2 separate regions of the Homo sapiens genome follow, and region 2 is linked to region 1. The links come from fine-mapping of genetic effects on gene expression. A gene starts in region 1. The other region holds a variant in brackets. All regions are shown on one strand. Distances are between the middles of the regions.

Region 1 (8,335 bases):
TTGAGATGGAGTCTTGCTCAGTCACCAGGCTGGAGTGCAGTGTGGCATGACCTTGGCTCACTGCAACCTCTGCCTCCCAGTTCAAGCGATTCTCCTGCCTCAGCTTCCCGAGTAGCTGGGACAATAGGTGCGCACCACCATGCCTAGCTAATTTTTGTATTTTTAGTAGAGATGGGGTTTCACCATGTTGGCCAGGATGGTCTTGATCTCCTGACCTCGTGATCCCCTCGGCCTCCCAAAGTGCTGGGATTACAGGCGTGAGCCACCGTGCCTGGCCCAAAGAACATTCTTAAGTACAGTAAGACAAAGATGACATCTATGATTTTCATCAAACAAAAGCCAACATCAAATTTTAGATCGATTTGCTTCACTAATTTTTTTAATTCAATAAAAGACTTCAAAATTAAATTTTGACCAAACTTTGAAAGTAACTGGGCCCTAGCCATCACATTTACAATGGAGTAGCTTTTTGCATAGAAGTCTTATCTTCACTTTTTCTGTTTTCACTTGGCCTTTTGATGAATTTGTCTTGTACTAGATGAGTAGGTAGTTTTTCTCAAGATACTACCTGTAACTTTCCTTAGGATAGATTATGTGACATTTTTATTACTTCTGTCACTTAACCAAAGTAGCTTTTTCATTTTCATTTATGATAGGTTTTGTAAATGTCAAATTTCTTGTTAAAGAGTCAGACTTGATATTCCAAAAGGCAAAGGATGATATAAATAATATTCAAGTATACACAACTAGAGTTGGAAATAATTTCAATCACTTTCTCCCACCCTCCCAAAATCAAGGTAACCTAATTTTCAAATAGTTATTTGAAAGGAAGAAATCAAGCTGCAGTTTAAAAAAAAAATGACACAGGATATTCTAAAATGTGATATATCTATCTATAATTCAAGTATAAAGACCATGAATAATCAGAGAAACCAACGTGAAATACATTTGGTATGACTTGCAGCGTACATTTAAAGTTAATTAACCCTGACTTGAATTCCTTAGAATTAACTTTTACAGAATTATAGAGGATTTAAAATTAGGTTTCCATCAATTTTAGAGGTAAGCTAAAACATTTTTTCTCCTGTTATCTCCAAGGAAATAAAACTGTTCAAATGTATTGGTGATTAGGTTATGACTTTCATTTCCTTTCCTTATTTTCTCAATTTTTAGAAAACTATAAACTGGTAGATTCTTTAACATACTTTCAAAGGAAAAGGGAATGACTCAGCTTCTTTATTAAGATCACTGGGTTCAGGATACTCACATAAATTTAGGGTCACAAACACAGCTACTTTTGGGGGCCAAATGTCATGCATGAGGGGCATGTGTCAGGCAGGGATGAGGGCAAGCTGGAGAGTGCCTGCTCATTTACTGCAGTCCAAGAAAGCACGGTCCTGCAAACATGGGGCATCAAAAGGACAATGGCTTCTGCTATGATGTTCAGAGAAGCCCAAAACACATTTTTTTCTAAGTATTCAATCTCCCAATTTTGAAATGTTAGCAATTATTTTCCTGAAAACATTGCCTATGGTCTGTGAGCTGCATTTGGCCTATAAGCCACCATCTGCAAGCCAATACTGCCCAAGAGAAGATAATATTGGGAGCTAATCCAGTAACCACAATGCCTTACAACAAGACATATAATTGTCAAATTCATTTCAAGTCTCATGTTGGCTGATCTGAGCACCATCTTTGAGAGATGAACAAACACAAAAAGGTTGCTTGATGATTTAAGAAACAAAGTAAACAGTTTGATGATTTGAATAGACAGTATCATCAAGTGATTAATAACTTGATACACTCATTTATTTGACAAAGATGTATTGAGTGCCTTGCATGTACCAGGCACTGTTTTAACCACCAAGCATACAGCTGAGCACAAGGCACCTATCCCCGAAGGTGCTTACATTCTAGAGGCAGAACGTAAATCTAACTAAGCAAACAAGAAAAATAGCAGCTGATGATAATGCTCATTCAGAAAATTAAAAACAGTAATTTTTTAACAGGTGTCTGGCTTTCCTATCCTGGTCCATGGATCTCAAACCTCACCCACTGAGGCTGTCAGAGTGTCAAATTCTTCCTCTTTACTCCTTTTGCTCACGTTATGAGATCACTTGTGGTATGTTTTAATAAATTGAAGGCCACTTTATTTTAAAGTAGTTACACTTTAATCTTCTTGACTAGATTTGGTGGAAATATCAATCCAGGAGGAATTTAGGGAAACCTCTAATCTAATCAACAGCTTAATTACAATGCCTGGGTCAGTGCTGCAGCTAGTTAATTTCAAACATTTTATGTTGCCTCCTTTTAGCTTCAGTTTTAGAGGATACCATTTTCCAGTGTGTCCCTAAATTCTAAGAATGTACCATTTGAGGATTTTTACCACCTTTTGCGAACAAAGACTAATAACATCTTCACAATGAAACTCTTTTCCTAGGGCCAGGGCTTCTCCCACGTAAAAATGCACATTAACAAACATCTTTGTAAACTCTTCCCTATAGTTGCCCCTGTATGATGAAATGGAGAAATCCGGTAATGTCCAGTCAGAAAATCTGGGTTCAAAACCAGATATTTGGCTCAGCTGGGGACCAACTCTTTGATCTGGTAGTCAGTCACCTGATCCTTGCTGTTTCTCTTTGAAAGCCCACTTCTTGGGGCGCTGAATGTGAGGACTGAGTGAGAGTGTGAATTTGAAAGCCAACTCTGAAACGCTGGCTATGATAGTTATTCTGATTGGAAGGGCCATTAAGGTCAATGGCAATGCTCCTTTTGTGATCAGTTACAAGAAAACAAATGGGTCCTTGTGACTGTGGGGGAAGGGAGGCAGAGCCAGACACAAAGTGGACCTCTTCTGGAAAATCAGCCACTGAAAGGAAAATAAATAAAATCCGTAAAGTTATATTTCAATTCAAAAAGAAATGTGGATTGTATGTAATGGCAAGAGGAGCACTGGTAATAATACATGTCTAACATTCATTGCGCACTTACTCTGTTCCAGGCATGGAGGTCAGAACTTTGCATGTATTAGCTCTTCAAATGAGGGGAGGAGAGGGAAGGAAAAGAAAAGTTAAGCTAATAAATAATGTGAAGTTGAAAAATTACCACGTACACAACGTGCACTATCGTGTCCCCCCCCGCCCCAAGCCCCCAGCTCTTTATATATGTGGTTTCCAGACCCATTTCTCAGCGGTCTGGTGTCTTTTGCAGCCCTTAGGGCCCCTTCCGCCCATTGTTATCTAATCACCCCTTCTCGGCCACGCAGGAAGGTCCACAACCTCCCCTGTCCCCCAAGACCCGCCCCCCGGCAGCCTTCAGAAATAGTTCTCTGGTACGTATGTGCCAGCATTTTATGCAGTAAACACATGTTGCCCTTAACACTGAACTGCAGGTTAAAAATGTATTCCACTAAATTGTGCAGCGGTTAGCTGAGCAAATAATGAAAATGCAAAAGAATACATTCAGTATATGGAGCTTAGAATATATCCTTTTGGAAAGCTAAACATTTTTTTTTTTTTTGCCCCAAATAAGACTAGAAATGGATTGCTCCATTTAAGACTTCCATTAATAAACTTCTCAGAATATGAAATGCCTCCAAAATGTGGGGACGCTGGGTTGAAAGGTGCCGGATAATTCTCTTTGGTGCGTGCGCTGGGTGCAGGAGGAAATATGCTAATGTAGCCGTTTGCCGCAGGGCTGGTGTTATTTATACAGCGCTGGCTGGGCAAGGTTGGCGCTGGAGCAGGAGAGGAGGGAGAGGTTTGTCTTCTTGTGTGAGAGTATAGATGTGTGCGCCTGTGCACACGGCGTTCCAAACGTGAATACAAGATCTTAGGGAGGGGGTGGGGAATGCCATCACGTTTATACTGTGTGTATTATAACTTGTGTTGGAGATATATCCCAGCATCGTGCTTACATCGCATGCACTTAGGAGTGGGGGAAGAAATGGCGATTTGGGAGTGGGTGCGGCGGGTCGCAGGTGGCCAGACACTGCGGGGGACTGGCGACCTGAAATTGGCAAAGGCGCCTCCTTGACCCTGCTCCACGGACACAAAAATCAACCTTATTCGCTCCTGGAAAAAGCGCAGAGGGTTGTTCCCGAAGGCTGAAGACCCTCGGGCTTGGGACTGGGAGCGGGGCGCGGGCAGCGGGACCGCCGGGCACCTCTGAAGAGACAGAGGTCACGGAGACCTGGCGCGCGCGGAGTGGGTGGGGGGCCCGCGCGGCTGCGGGAGCCCAGCCTCAGAGAAGACCCGGCCCACACGTTCTCAGCGCACGCCGACTTTGCCGGGACCCGTCGCCGGCCGGCGACCCCTGCTACGCGCGTCTCCTCCTCCCCCGCCCCGCCCGGCGCGAAACGGGCAACGGGCAGGGGATCCTCCAGCCAGGCGGGCCCGGGGTGTCCCGTTTCCCCCGCCCCCCTCCCGTGGATCCCGGGCGGCGGCGGCCGCGCGTCCGGGCTGGAGGGGGCGCTCGCGAGCAGGAGCCGAGCGCAGCAGGTGCCGCGGTTACCTCCACCTCGGCGGGGGGAGAGGGGGCGGGCCGGGGGGCAGGGAGGAGGGGGAGGAGGAGGAGGAGGAGGAGGAGTGGGGCCGGCTCCAGGAGCTGGAGAGCGCGGCCGGCTCGGCAGGCTGGGTCCAGAGCTCGCGGCTTCCGGGAGGCGCCCGAAGTCGGAGAAATACAGCGCGGCCACCCCGGGAGCAGCAGCCTTTGCCCGCACCGCCGCCCGCAGGGCCCTGAACCGCCGGCAAGGGCGCGGGCCGGGCGCGGCGCCGGCTCCTCCTCCTGCCGCGTCCGGCGCGGAGCAGCGGAGAGCGGCGGGCTCGGCAGCCGGCGCCCGGGCCGCGGAACTGATGAGCCGCGGCGGCTGAGGGCCCGGCCGGCCTCTGCCCGCCTCTGCCCGGCGCCCGAGCGGGGCCGCAGCGCCCGGGGCGCGGGGTCCGGCGGGTGACATGGGGGCGGCCTGACGCACCCGGAGCCGCCGAGCGCTCTCTCTCGAGCCGCGGGCCCTCCTCGGCGGCAGCGGCTGCAGGCGCCTGGCCCGGCGCGCTGTGCCCGGGGCGCCCGCGGAGCCTCCGCCGCGCTCTATGCGCCTCTGCGGGAGCCGCGGGCCCGGGCCATGGCCATAGACCGGCGGCGCGAGGCGGCGGGCGGCGGGCCTGGGCGGCAGCCGGCCCCGGCCGAGGAGAACGGCTCCCTGCCGCCCGGGGACGCGGCGGCCTCGGCGCCCCTCGGGGGACGCGCGGGCCCCGGCGGCGGCGCGGAGATCCAGCCGCTGCCCCCACTGCATCCTGGAGGCGGCCCGCACCCGAGCTGCTGCTCCGCGGCTGCGGCCCCGAGCCTCTTGTTGCTGGACTATGACGGGTCGGTGCTGCCCTTCCTCGGGGGCCTGGGCGGGGGCTATCAGAAGACCCTCGTGCTGCTCACCTGGATCCCGGCGCTGTTCATCGGCTTCAGCCAGTTCTCGGACTCGTTCCTCCTGGACCAGCCCAACTTCTGGTGCCGCGGGGCCGGCAAAGGCACCGAGCTGGCAGGGGTCACCACCACAGGCCGGGGCGGGGACATGGGCAACTGGACCAGCCTCCCCACCACCCCCTTCGCCACTGCCCCCTGGGAGGCTGCGGGCAACCGGAGCAACAGCAGCGGCGCGGACGGAGGCGACACACCACCCCTGCCATCCCCTCCGGACAAGGGGGACAACGCCTCCAACTGTGACTGCCGCGCATGGGACTACGGCATCCGCGCCGGCCTCGTCCAGAACGTGGTCAGCAAGGTAAGGGCCGCAGCCGCCCAGTCCCTCCAACCCTCTCCCTGCAGACCGAGGTCCAAGCCCGAGCCAGCGGGAGAACCGAAGTCCCCAAAGTGGTGGTGCTAGAGTGTGTGTAGGGCATTCCGCATTGGCTTAATCTCCTTCCGTCCCCCAAACCACATGCCTTTACTTGGGTGTAAAGGGAGCACCATAGCCTTTACTAGTTTGCACCCAAACTCCTGTCCCAGTACGCGGATGGAAAGCGCGCCCTTCCCCCACCCTCGGGGCGAGGCAGCTGACCTGTCACCAGCCCCCTCTGGAGGAGTCGGACTGGCGTCGTTCAAGGTCTGCTGGGGGAGTCGGGACCACAGCCCTGTTCTGCCCGGCTAGTTGTCCCTGGGTCTCCCACAAAGCAATAGTCTTCCATCTCGCACTTGATTTTGACACAGGTAAAGCCTACTAAAGAACTGGAGAGCCAGAGAAGCAAAGACTCCTGCAAATCCCCAACCCGCAGCCGATGCTTAGTCCTCCCCAAAGATATCTGACTTTAGGCTTTGCTACCCCAGTGTCTCCTCCCATGTTTTCTCAGCACTTCAGTAAACATCACTACAGTATAGGAAGGACGCGGAGAATATGTCATTTGGGTGTTCCCCGGCCGTCACCGCTCTTACACAGCAGCTGCTTTGGGCTGAGGCACTGAGAACGGGGGTGTGCTTTAGCTGAAACATGCACCTTGTCCTCTGAGTCCTGTAGCTAAAGCTCCCTTGCAGAGGTATTGCGTGGTGTGAAATGTAGCAGAAGGGAGTTGTGAGACAAGTGTGAAGGCCTAAACACAGAGTGGGCAATGGTGGACACTCAATGCCCCTAGACAGCTGTAATTTTATTCTTAACATATAAGAGATATCAAGACATTTGTAGTTTTGCTCCTTGTGTCTAAACTAATTAATTCACATTTTAAAGTAAATACAGACTCTCCTCCACCCCACCCGCTACCCATTCTGGGCTGTTCTGGCAGAGTTTTAAATGCTTTGTCGAAATGTATGAAATTGGACAGTTTTAAATAGTCAATGTGCATGTAACCTCCTCCCCCCGTGTGCATTGGTTAACAGTTGTAGCTCATGGATGTGTAAGATAAACTCTTACATCATCATAATCATTGTTTTAATCTTGTACCAACCTGGCCAGAAATGCTCTGTCCTGTGGGAACTGTCTGACTGAGCTGCCCCTGCTGCCCTGCAAGGTAATGGGGAAGGTCCTTCTAGCTGGGTTCACCTTGATCCCACCCACCTCCTACCCCCTGCTTTCTAAAGGTGTTTCTGTGACTGTTTTCCCTTCACGGAGGGCAATATTTCTTTGTTGGTTTAGCAGCAAAGAAAAATTAAGAACAATGACTATTTAAATCACTGTGTATGTCTGACAGACTGAGGATTTGGCAACATTGTTAAGTATTTCAAGTGTCTTTCTAGAGCAGAGGGAGAATAATGGATCAAAGTGAGTATGTGTGAAGAGCGCTGTGTCCTGGGGTCAAAGTAGAGGTGAACTTGAAAGTGATGAGATGGGATAGAGTGCCATTACCTTGGCAGTGAGGACCCAGGAAACAGCTATTCACACTCAGCCATGCACGGTGGGAGGAGAGAACAAAAATAGTTCTTAAAAGCAGACTATGGAGGCATATTGGAGAGCTGGGCAGTTTTTCTAAATTAGCATTCGAGAGGGTCACAGACAGCCCTCATGTGTGTGGCATGTTTTGGGTGATGCTTGATGACACGTTGCAGTTACTGGGCCAGACTGAGAGGGGAAACCTGGGAACAATAATTAGACACACATTTTCTTATACAGTAAAGCCTAGAAAGGACATATTGATTTTCACAGACAAAAAAGATCTAAATAAAGGACTGCCTTCCCAGTGTTCTGTGTGTTTCAAGCACATAACAAATGCTTCAAAGAGCTTTTCAAGCACATTTTGGCATGTTGGAAGGCAGACTTTTCCTGTGCTGCTGTGTATGTTGAATACTGTATCAGATGCACTAATGTGGGATGTACACTATGGTGAGTGCAGGAGTTCCAGGGGTCAGGTGCTTGTCAGCCCACATCCCAAGTAGAAGCAGAAAGTGGAAGGAGCCTTTGCCTTCTTTCAGTGGATAAAAGCTCAGGGTTTGAGAAGCTGCCTTTTGTGCCTCTTTCCTGCTCTGTTCCATGATCTTTCTCTTGCAAATAAGCCTCATGCTGTCTTCAGCATGTATCCTGTATTTAGTATGTATCCTTTAGCGTGTGTGTGCCCTACAATATATGCACCATTCTGTCCCTAGGTGTCAGAAAGGGAGAGGAAGACAGAAGAGCTACCAGGCACAGTTCTGGACCTCTTTCTCATGTGGCTGCTGGTATCCTAGCACCTACCTACACACGTGAAACTGTCAAGCCAGTTAGAATCCCAGGTTATTGTAGTTAAAAGGGATCTTAGGGCTGACCAGCCTCTCTCGCCTTCTGCATGATATCTCTAACATGAAGTTATCCATCCTAGTTTGAACACTTCCATCGATGGAAAGGGAGTGCTTTGTTAACAAGGCAGCTAGTCCATCCCGTAGT
Region 2 (8,335 bases), 100 kb after region 1:
AGATGGATAGTTATATGTGTGACCTAAGGAGAACCACTCAGTGATGAAGAATAAACGTGGCAACACCAGCTAGCATAGCTTAGCAGCATCTGTTATCTGCCTGAGGGCGGTGAATTCCCAGTGAGATGCTCATTCTAGTACTGTCCTAGAATGAAATGAGTCTCAGCTGGCATGTTCCTCGCTCTCCTTCTCGGTGCCCATCTTTTTCTTAGTTGAAATGATCTGTGATTCTGGATGCAGCCCGTGTTGTTCTGGGACGTCTCTGTATTGCACTAAATTAATAAAGGAGCTTTCATTTTTGCAGTTATGTATTTTGAATTCCCTATTCTCTCTTCATCCTGAATGACTGAGACTTGATTAGACATCGGCACAGCGCACCTGACATGGCGCTGACATGGAAATGCAATGGGTGGCAGCTCGGGGTGCAGACCCCACCCAGGATGCTGTGCCCGAGGGGAGCCAGGGCTTCCCTTTGAAATGGCAAAGGTTCCCACCATCCCTCCAGCCCCCGATGGCAGATCCCTTCTCACTTCTTCCTCACTGGAGCTGTGACTCCTTCCGGTGTTTTCCTTGGGTTGATGAAACAGAAACTCTCCTGGGGCCTTTTTTATTTTATTTTTTAATTTTATTTGTGGTAAGAACATCTAACATGAGACCCACCCTCTTAACAGGTTTTTTCAGTGTACAGCACAGTATCGTGAACTATAGACACAATGTGTGCAGCAGAGTTCCAGAGCTTATTCATCTCGCCTGCCTGAAAGCTGATGCTAGTTGACGAGCAACTCCCCATGTCTCCCTCCCTCTACCCCCGGCAACCATCAGCCCACTCTTTGATTTTCTGAATTTGCCTATTTTTACATGCCTCATGTAAGTGGAATCATGTAGTATTTGTCCTTCTGTGACTGGCTTATTTCACTTAACATAATTCCTCCAAGTTCATCCACGTGTCGTACGTGTCAGAATTTCATTCGTTCTTAAGCGGAATCATATTCTATTGTATTTTTCACTGTGTTTCGTGTGTCCCTTCACCTATCAGTGGACCTCTGCGTTGTTTCCATATCTTGGCTGTTGTGGATAACACTGCAGTGAACGTGGGAGCGCTCACGTCAAGTGCTTTGAGATCCTAATTTCAATTCTTTTGGATAAGTACCTGGAAGTAGAATCACTGGATCATATGGCAGTTCTAGTTTTAGTTTTTTGAGGAACTGCCATACTGTTTTCCATAATGGCTGCACCATTTTTGCATCCCTACCAACAGTGTTTAAAGGTTCCAATTTCTCTCCATCCTGGGGACTTTGATACTGAGAACCTAACCTGTCTAGCCTCTTCTGCACTGGCCGCCTTTGCAAGAGCTGGTTGCCTCTCTGAAAACTCTCCTCCCAGGCCTCTTCCCTTCCCCTCACCCACATGGCAGGACAGTCCTACTTCCTTTTCCCTTAAGGGAAGATTCAAATGCTGCTTCTTTGGTGAAGTCTTCCCCAGGCCTCGTCCCTTTCTTTGCATTCCTGTAGCACAGAACCCCATCTGTGTCTTATAGGCACGTGTCTCTTCATCAGACTGTGAGCCCCTTGAGGCCGGTGGTGTGGCTTCATCTCGGCATCTCCCCTGGCATGGTGCTACCTCATCCTCCTTGCTGAATAAGTGAATGAAATGCATTCATTATACACAGCCGCCTTCTGTTTTCCATTATTTGTCATTATTCAGTGTGTTCTGTGAACCAGGAGCTGGGCATGGCTTGTTGAATAAGAACACAGTCCCTAAACTAAGGAGCTTTTAGGCTGGTAACCAAAAAGGGAAATTCTAAATTTTTTTATGATAAGCTTTTAGATATCTTTTTGATATTTAGAATGAAGTAAACACAGTAGATGTAGTCCAATTTTGGAAATCATTTAAGACCTGAGCCTAATTGAGCAGGTAGAAAGCCAGGAAGAACACACCTACTTTGTATTTGCAGTCCTTTCCTCATGCTAATTGATAAGGCGATTAATCCTTACACTATTGCTGAGCCACAACCCCATTTAAAAATAAAAATTAGGAAAGCTGTCTGGATAATTATTAGCAAAGACTTTACAGAGGCTGGGATAAGTCCTCCAGCTGGTTGTTTGCACTGGGAGTTTTACAGTGTACTTGACCTTTGCTTAAGGTAAGGGAGTTTGTTTGGCAAAAACAATGATACATATTTCCATGGCATTGGAATCCTGCTGGATTTCTGAGACTCTGGGAATGCAGATGTGGGCACTGGAGTAAATGTGAGCATTTCATTACAGTGCCTGCCTTGTTTTGGGTTTTTTTTTTTTTTTTTTTTTTTTTTTTGGCTCTGTTTTGGTTTTCTCTTCCAGGCTGTATTGCTAGGTTTACTGCTTTAAAATTGTCTTTATGGTCCAGGCTGCTGCAGCCTTTAGAACAAACCACGACAGTTGGGATCTAGAAGCCTGCGCCTCTCCTAGAGACACCACCTGCATCACAGTGTCGGTGACCTGACCTTTGAAGGGGCCATTTCCCATCTTGGAAATGGGGATACTACTTGATATTCTTATTTATAGGATTTGGTGAGGGCATATGAGGTAACACATCCACAGATGCTCTGAAGGGCTTGAGCGGGATCCTGCACCTTATTACAGGTGGTTGTTGGTATCTTGGGCAGGTTTCAAGACCTGGAGGTTCAAGCCAGCCCATCTCACTGCTGAGCCAATAAGGAGGAAGACAACAGGGTTACAACAAAGCTTCAGGCTTAGGAAGAAATGTTTCACGTGGATGGTGTCCTGGCCAGCGGGTTTGGTTCTAAAATAAACACTACTGTCTCTGGGGCTGAAGATTTGCCCAGGACAATGAAGCAGCCAGCGGGAGGGTAGTGCAGAGCCGGTAAGTTTAGGGTCAGCTTTATTTTCACAGGCAAATGAGGAAGTGAGAGGCTGCTAAAATCACTCCTCTGAGGCTTCCCCTGCCCCTTGGATGAGGTCGCTGCCATCTCTGAGATGGGGGTGTGGCCTGTTACCCTTGTAGGCACCGAGGGTGGATCTAAGACACTGTTTTACCATCCAATCCTGTCAGCGGTTCCATGGCCCACCGGTTTCCTTTTGAATGTTTCCAGGAGCCAGAAGTCCAGATCCCAAGGGCTGGCACGCAGAAGGAGGGCCCTCCCGAGAGAGCACGCGTGCTTCGATTTCTTTCGTGATTATGAGATGTTTCTGATGTCACGTGTATCTGCTACCCGGACTCGGAAACAAGCCTCATTAATAAGTCCCACCCTCCCGCCTCCACCCACCCCCGCCTCCTCCCGCCTCCTCCCCCTCCCGCGCCCCCCGCCTCCTCCCCCTCCCCTGTCCACAAGTCTCCCCACCCCGTTTGCTGTTTTTCATCCTCATGAGTTTCGTTAGGTTTTCCCACATCTAGAACACTGCGTTGTACAGTTTTGCCTTTAAAAAAAAACTTCCTACAAATGCTGTCGTACTGTGTTTGTTTTTCTGAACTTCCTTCTTTTTTTAATACCTCAGCGTTATATCCAGTGGCTCCTCCGTGTCGATGCGGAGACAGGGAATGAGTGAGAGCGACGCCGGCTTTGAGAGCTGGGGTTTGTGCAGGGCTGAGTGAGACCTTGGGCTCCCGTGGCCCAGAACTTAAGAAATAGCAAATGAGAATAGTAGATGAGCCAGAAATTG[A/G]GAGTAAATTTGGGAAGGCACAGAAAGGACTGACCAGGCATCAAGTGGCCTAGCTCTGGAGCCTGGGAGTGGGGCTGATACAGGGAGCGGGGCGGGAGGGCCCAGACCTAGCCCAGACTCATGAGAACGGTAACCTTGTTATGACCTTGGCCTTCACACAATAACTTCCCTCTGCCCAGCAACGTCCTGTTCTCTTATACACATGGTAAGAGGGAAAATATCTATCTATAAATACATTTATATTTCTAAGAGATCATCATGGAGATTTTTTTTCTCGACCCAGGGAGGGTTGCTTTGTTGCATAGAACAGGGTGTGACGAACCCACGAGCAGCATGCTTGTCTTCCTCCCGTCTTTTAAGTTCAAAGGCTTCTCACTGTACCTAATAAGTCGATGTCTTTACTGATATTATTTCTGATTTCCAGTTTGAAGATGAGAAAACTGGTGGTTATCAAGGCCTCTCTATTCATCCCATTTTATTTGAAGAGCTACTGGATAGTATTTGGAGGGAGACTTTTTTTTTTTTAGCTGGGGAGGGTGGCGGCCACAAAGACAGGGAGCTGTTTCCAAGCAGATAGAGGGTAGGAGCCCAAAGATAAGGATTTGAATACTGCCATGTGGAGAGGCGCTGGTTTTTTTTGTTTGTGTTTTTATAAACTCGGTAGTAGGAATATCTTTTATTGTTTTTCCTGTTGCCTGTTTAAAGGAAAGAGTGTAGCACAAATTGTCCAAATGCCTTGTGCTTTTAGGGGCAGAGTTAGATACTGTCACCCTCTGGCCCTCAGGTCCTGCTTTGTCTGTTCTGCGTGTTGTCTACCCATGAACTAATGAGGCTGCCTGCTTAATTGACCTGGAAAGACAAGTGTCAGTTGAAGAAGATGATGTTGAATTATGAGATTCAGAAACCCATTACATGGCTACTTGGCCCAGCATAGTACCTTCCCCATTTGTTAGACATTCACTATTTGATTAATTAGTAAGAAATTAGAGATGGTGTGGATCATTGAAATCTAGAGCAACCCCTCCAACACCTTGACTTCCCCCTAACACTCTTACTGGGACATCAACTAAAAACAGACTGTGTTTCAGTTCATCCATTGCTTTACCCACTAATAAATGGTTCACCCATCCTTTCTTGAGTGCCTGCTGGATGCTGGGTCTCTTGAGGATGGAAAGACATTGCCTTGCCTTTGAGGCACAGAGTCTCTGCTATATCGATGGATCTGACCACAGTACAGTGGTCACTACAATCGAGGAACTTATTAAATGCAGCAGGGACATGGAAAGAGAATCTGAATCTTCTTGAGATTTTCTTTTGTTTACCCAACCCACCTCATGTAAAGATGTAAAGGTACACAAGTCAAGAGAAGGAAAAGTCTGTGAGTGCCTTTAGTCACTTGCTCCTCCGTAAATGTGCACTTCCTGTTGAATTTACCTTTGAAGGGTCCTGAAAGGAGTGTCTTTGCCCATCCAATGCCCTGACTGCCTCTCCGTTGGGAGTGCACCATGCTATGTGTTTGTGTGAGCCTGTGTGTGTGTTTTGCTTAGAAGTTGCATGTGGCTCTTGTCTTGGCCATGCCAACTCTAAGGAGAAAACACATGTGATCACCATCGAAATTTCCACAATCCAATCAGGCCTGCCAAGGAGGTTTATGGGTCCAGATAAGTGGCTTAGCTACCTGTCACATCAAAGGATTCAGTCAACCGACCCAAGGACCAGCATTTTTCCTTGTGCCTTCTTAGAGAAAGTAAAGCAGCCCACGCATAGGAGACCTGGAAAAGTTGGTAGTCTGGGATCTGTAAGGAGCCTCTGCATGAGGCTTCCTCGATGCTGTCATGCTCTGGGCCAGAACTGGGGTCCTGGGAAACACTGGTGGTAGAAGGGAGAGTCTGCCTCTACTAAGAAGGTGGGGGAATGGTGTGGCTTCCTGAGGAGGGAGCTCTTGGGAACAGCAGCCCTGGAAGCCAGAAATCACGTGAGTACATTTGGGTGGCAGTGCACAGGGCAGAAGAGCCACATCACAGCTTCGGTAATGGGACGAGGCGAGCACAGCCCTTTACCTGGAAAGGCAGTGGTTGACTGATCTAGTGATTTGGGAGCAAAAATTCCAGTAGCCCTAGTCTTGTGATTTGCAGCTGAACTGTTTTCCTAATAGTCTTATACATGTGATTTTGTAAAGCATAATGAACACCTCAATCAAGCAGGTGACATCGTGAATCCCAGCATGAGGGTCACGGCATTTCCCATTGAGTGGGATTCAGGCCTGAAGCCAAACCGCTCAAGCCAGATGTTGAGACACAGGAAGTTATTTTAACTAAAATGCTGTAGAAGAGGGCAAGATTGGCAGCTGGGAGAATCAGGCAGCACCTCTTCATTGGGGAGCTGGCTGTGGTATAGGAAATCTAACACAGACGGAGTTTCCCTTTTTTTGTTCAAATGCTGGAAAACCAGGTTTTGGTTTAAGCAGCCAGGTAAAGGCCCACAGTTATGTGCCTTTTATGGCCCTTTGCCATCTTGCCTTCAAAATCTCCAAGAATAACAGATTATTCCTGTGAGCAGGGAAGTAATAATACTTACATGTAATTTTAGATTAGGCGGAGCACTCACAGGTGAGACTTTGCATCTCTTGACACGGTCTGGTCGTTGCTGAAGAACAGGGTAAAAAGTCTTACTTAAAATTTCAGGCAAAAAATGAATATAATCACTGTAGTATTTTCATACATATTTTGACCCTGTTCCTCAGCAACAAAGTCCTGTTGGGACAAGCTGACCACTGGGGGTTCTGGTAGCAAGGTGCAGGTCACGGGGGCGACTGATCTTCTCCCGGGTGTTTGCAGGGCACGCGGCTTGTCCATGCGTATCCAGGGAGCGTCTCTAAACTGCTGTTGGCTCTGGGTTTGCACTATGTGCTTTTCCTTCACTCAGATTAATTAAAGAATTGTCATTTCTCTGCTTTTTGAACACCTGTAAGCGACACCATTTATCCTCAGACCTCCAGGAAGCTTGGCAGTTTTCATATGCTGTGAGAGTATGATTTAAGGACTCAAGTGAGTCCATTTTCCATGATTCAGGTGAGTCCCAGTAGCAGGTTTCTCATTTTCAGATGGAAAAACAAGAATGGCAGAGATCAGAGCCTTTTCTCCCTTTTGTTATGGCCGGGGCTTGGTGTGTGCTCACCTGCTCTCTTTCTCTCTGTCTGTGTATTTGTGTGTCTGCAAGTATGCCTATGTGTGTATGTGGCCGTGTATGTGAATGGGTCAATATGTGTCTGTGTGTGTCTGTGCATGCATGCCGGTGAGCTTCTGTGGCTGTGTCTGTGTGTGAGTGTGTCTGTGCATGTCTGTATGTGCTTGTGTTTGTGGCTGTGTGTGTGTGTGTCTGTGCATGTCTGTGTGTGCATGCTTGTAAGTGTCTATGGCTGTGTGTGTGTGTGTGTGTGCATGTCTGTGTGTGTATGTTTGTGAGTGTCTGTGTGTCTGTACATGTCCGTGTACGTGGTTTTCACTGTCAGAGCAGCAGGACAAGAGGCACTCTCACATCTCCTTCCACAACCTGCCCTGTTCCTCCCTTCCTTATCTGTGGTCCTGGTGGGCCTGGTTTTGCCATGGCCTCTGCCACCTCTCAGCACTCCAGCAGCCCTGCCTGGGGAGGGGAGGCCATGGAGTGCTTTCGCCTTGACGCCCATTTCAGAAACGGAGCAGCCTTACCAGTCGGGTGGTGGACAGTCATCCACCCAGAGCATCCCTCCCTGCTCTCCTGTTTGGTGTGGCCTAGATGGGAACTCCATCTGCCTCGAGGTGGTCCCCATGACTGCAGCAGCTCAGGCCTTGGCCCTGCTGCCCATCCTCCTGCTCACCTGGGGGTCATGTACATTTGATGAGAATGCATTAGAAACCTGGGTTTCCTGGCTCAGTCCTGAATGAAGTAGCAAGTCTCCTCGGGGACAGTTTTGATACCAAATAGCAGAAATATGGCTCCATAGGGCCCACCCTGTGGTACAGTGTGGCTGGGGGAGGAGATGGGTTACAGAATCTTTGAAGTGGCCAGTGACGTGTTCTTAGGCGAAAGCCAGGAAAGGTCGAGGGGAGAGAGGTTTCCAGAGCAGTGGGAGGGGTGGGCGGGAAGCCACAGAGAGGGCTGTTGACTGAGCCTGGATGACTGCTCATTAGTCCTGACCGTCCAGTACTTGTGGGCTGAACGTTCCCCGCTGCCTGGCACGCTCAGGGCAACCCCCAGGATTTGTGTTCATTGCCCAGCTCAGCCACCCCCACCCCATAAAATCTCAAGACTTGTCTTTCTGCCAGCACTAGCTGATAACATCAGATTATTTTTCCCCAACCCTTTTCCTTCGCCCCTTCGTTTTCCACCCTAAGAGGCTAAATTGCCTGGCATTTTCCACCGCACTCCGATTACACTGGACAAAGGGCCATCCGGCTAGAATGCTAATAGGGAGATTTTTTTTCCATCCTGCCTGAGCCTCACAAAAGCTGGGGGCTTTAACTGCGAGGGCCTCTCTAGCTCTCACTTTCTTTCCTGTAATTCTATACAAACGGCATTAGCCTTTTATGAGGTCTTTGTTTGTGGCCATTCTGAGGGTACTTTTCATCTCACATGGGTTTCTTGAATTTTAAGTGGAATTTGTTCAAATCGGCCTGGCCTTGCTTCTCCTGGAGGAA

Alleles and levels. Positions count from the first base shown, and alleles are read on the strand shown. Sizes are in standard deviations (SD) of each study's normalised expression.
As copies of G replace A in region 2, the expression in follicular helper T cells of the gene that starts at base 4,629 in region 1 goes down (large effect, 0.84 SD a copy in Schmiedel 2018).

The links.
Region 2: its variant is fine-mapped to the expression of SLC22A23 in follicular helper T cells (Schmiedel 2018, PIP 0.93).

Annotation. Positions count from the first base shown.
Region 1 is chr6:3,453,344-3,461,678 of GRCh38, reverse strand. It overlaps SLC22A23 (solute carrier family 22 member 23), which reads left to right and starts at 4,629. Exons shown (of 10, transcript NM_015482.2): 1 at 4,629-5,773. The coding sequence starts at 5,120. LOC643327 (a long non-coding RNA gene) reads right to left here and starts at 5,976. Exons shown (of 2, transcript NR_147844.1): 1 at 5,428-5,976. RefSeq lists silencers at 4,352-4,571, 4,632-4,861.
Region 2 is chr6:3,351,035-3,359,369 of GRCh38, reverse strand. The region is part of intron 3 of SLC22A23 (solute carrier family 22 member 23); the gene reads left to right. Among named protein-coding and RNA genes, the nearest start is that of PSMG4, 96 kb to the right of the region's middle. RefSeq lists enhancers at 2,337-3,227, 7,347-8,335. The variant A/G (reference allele first, on the strand shown) is at 3,660.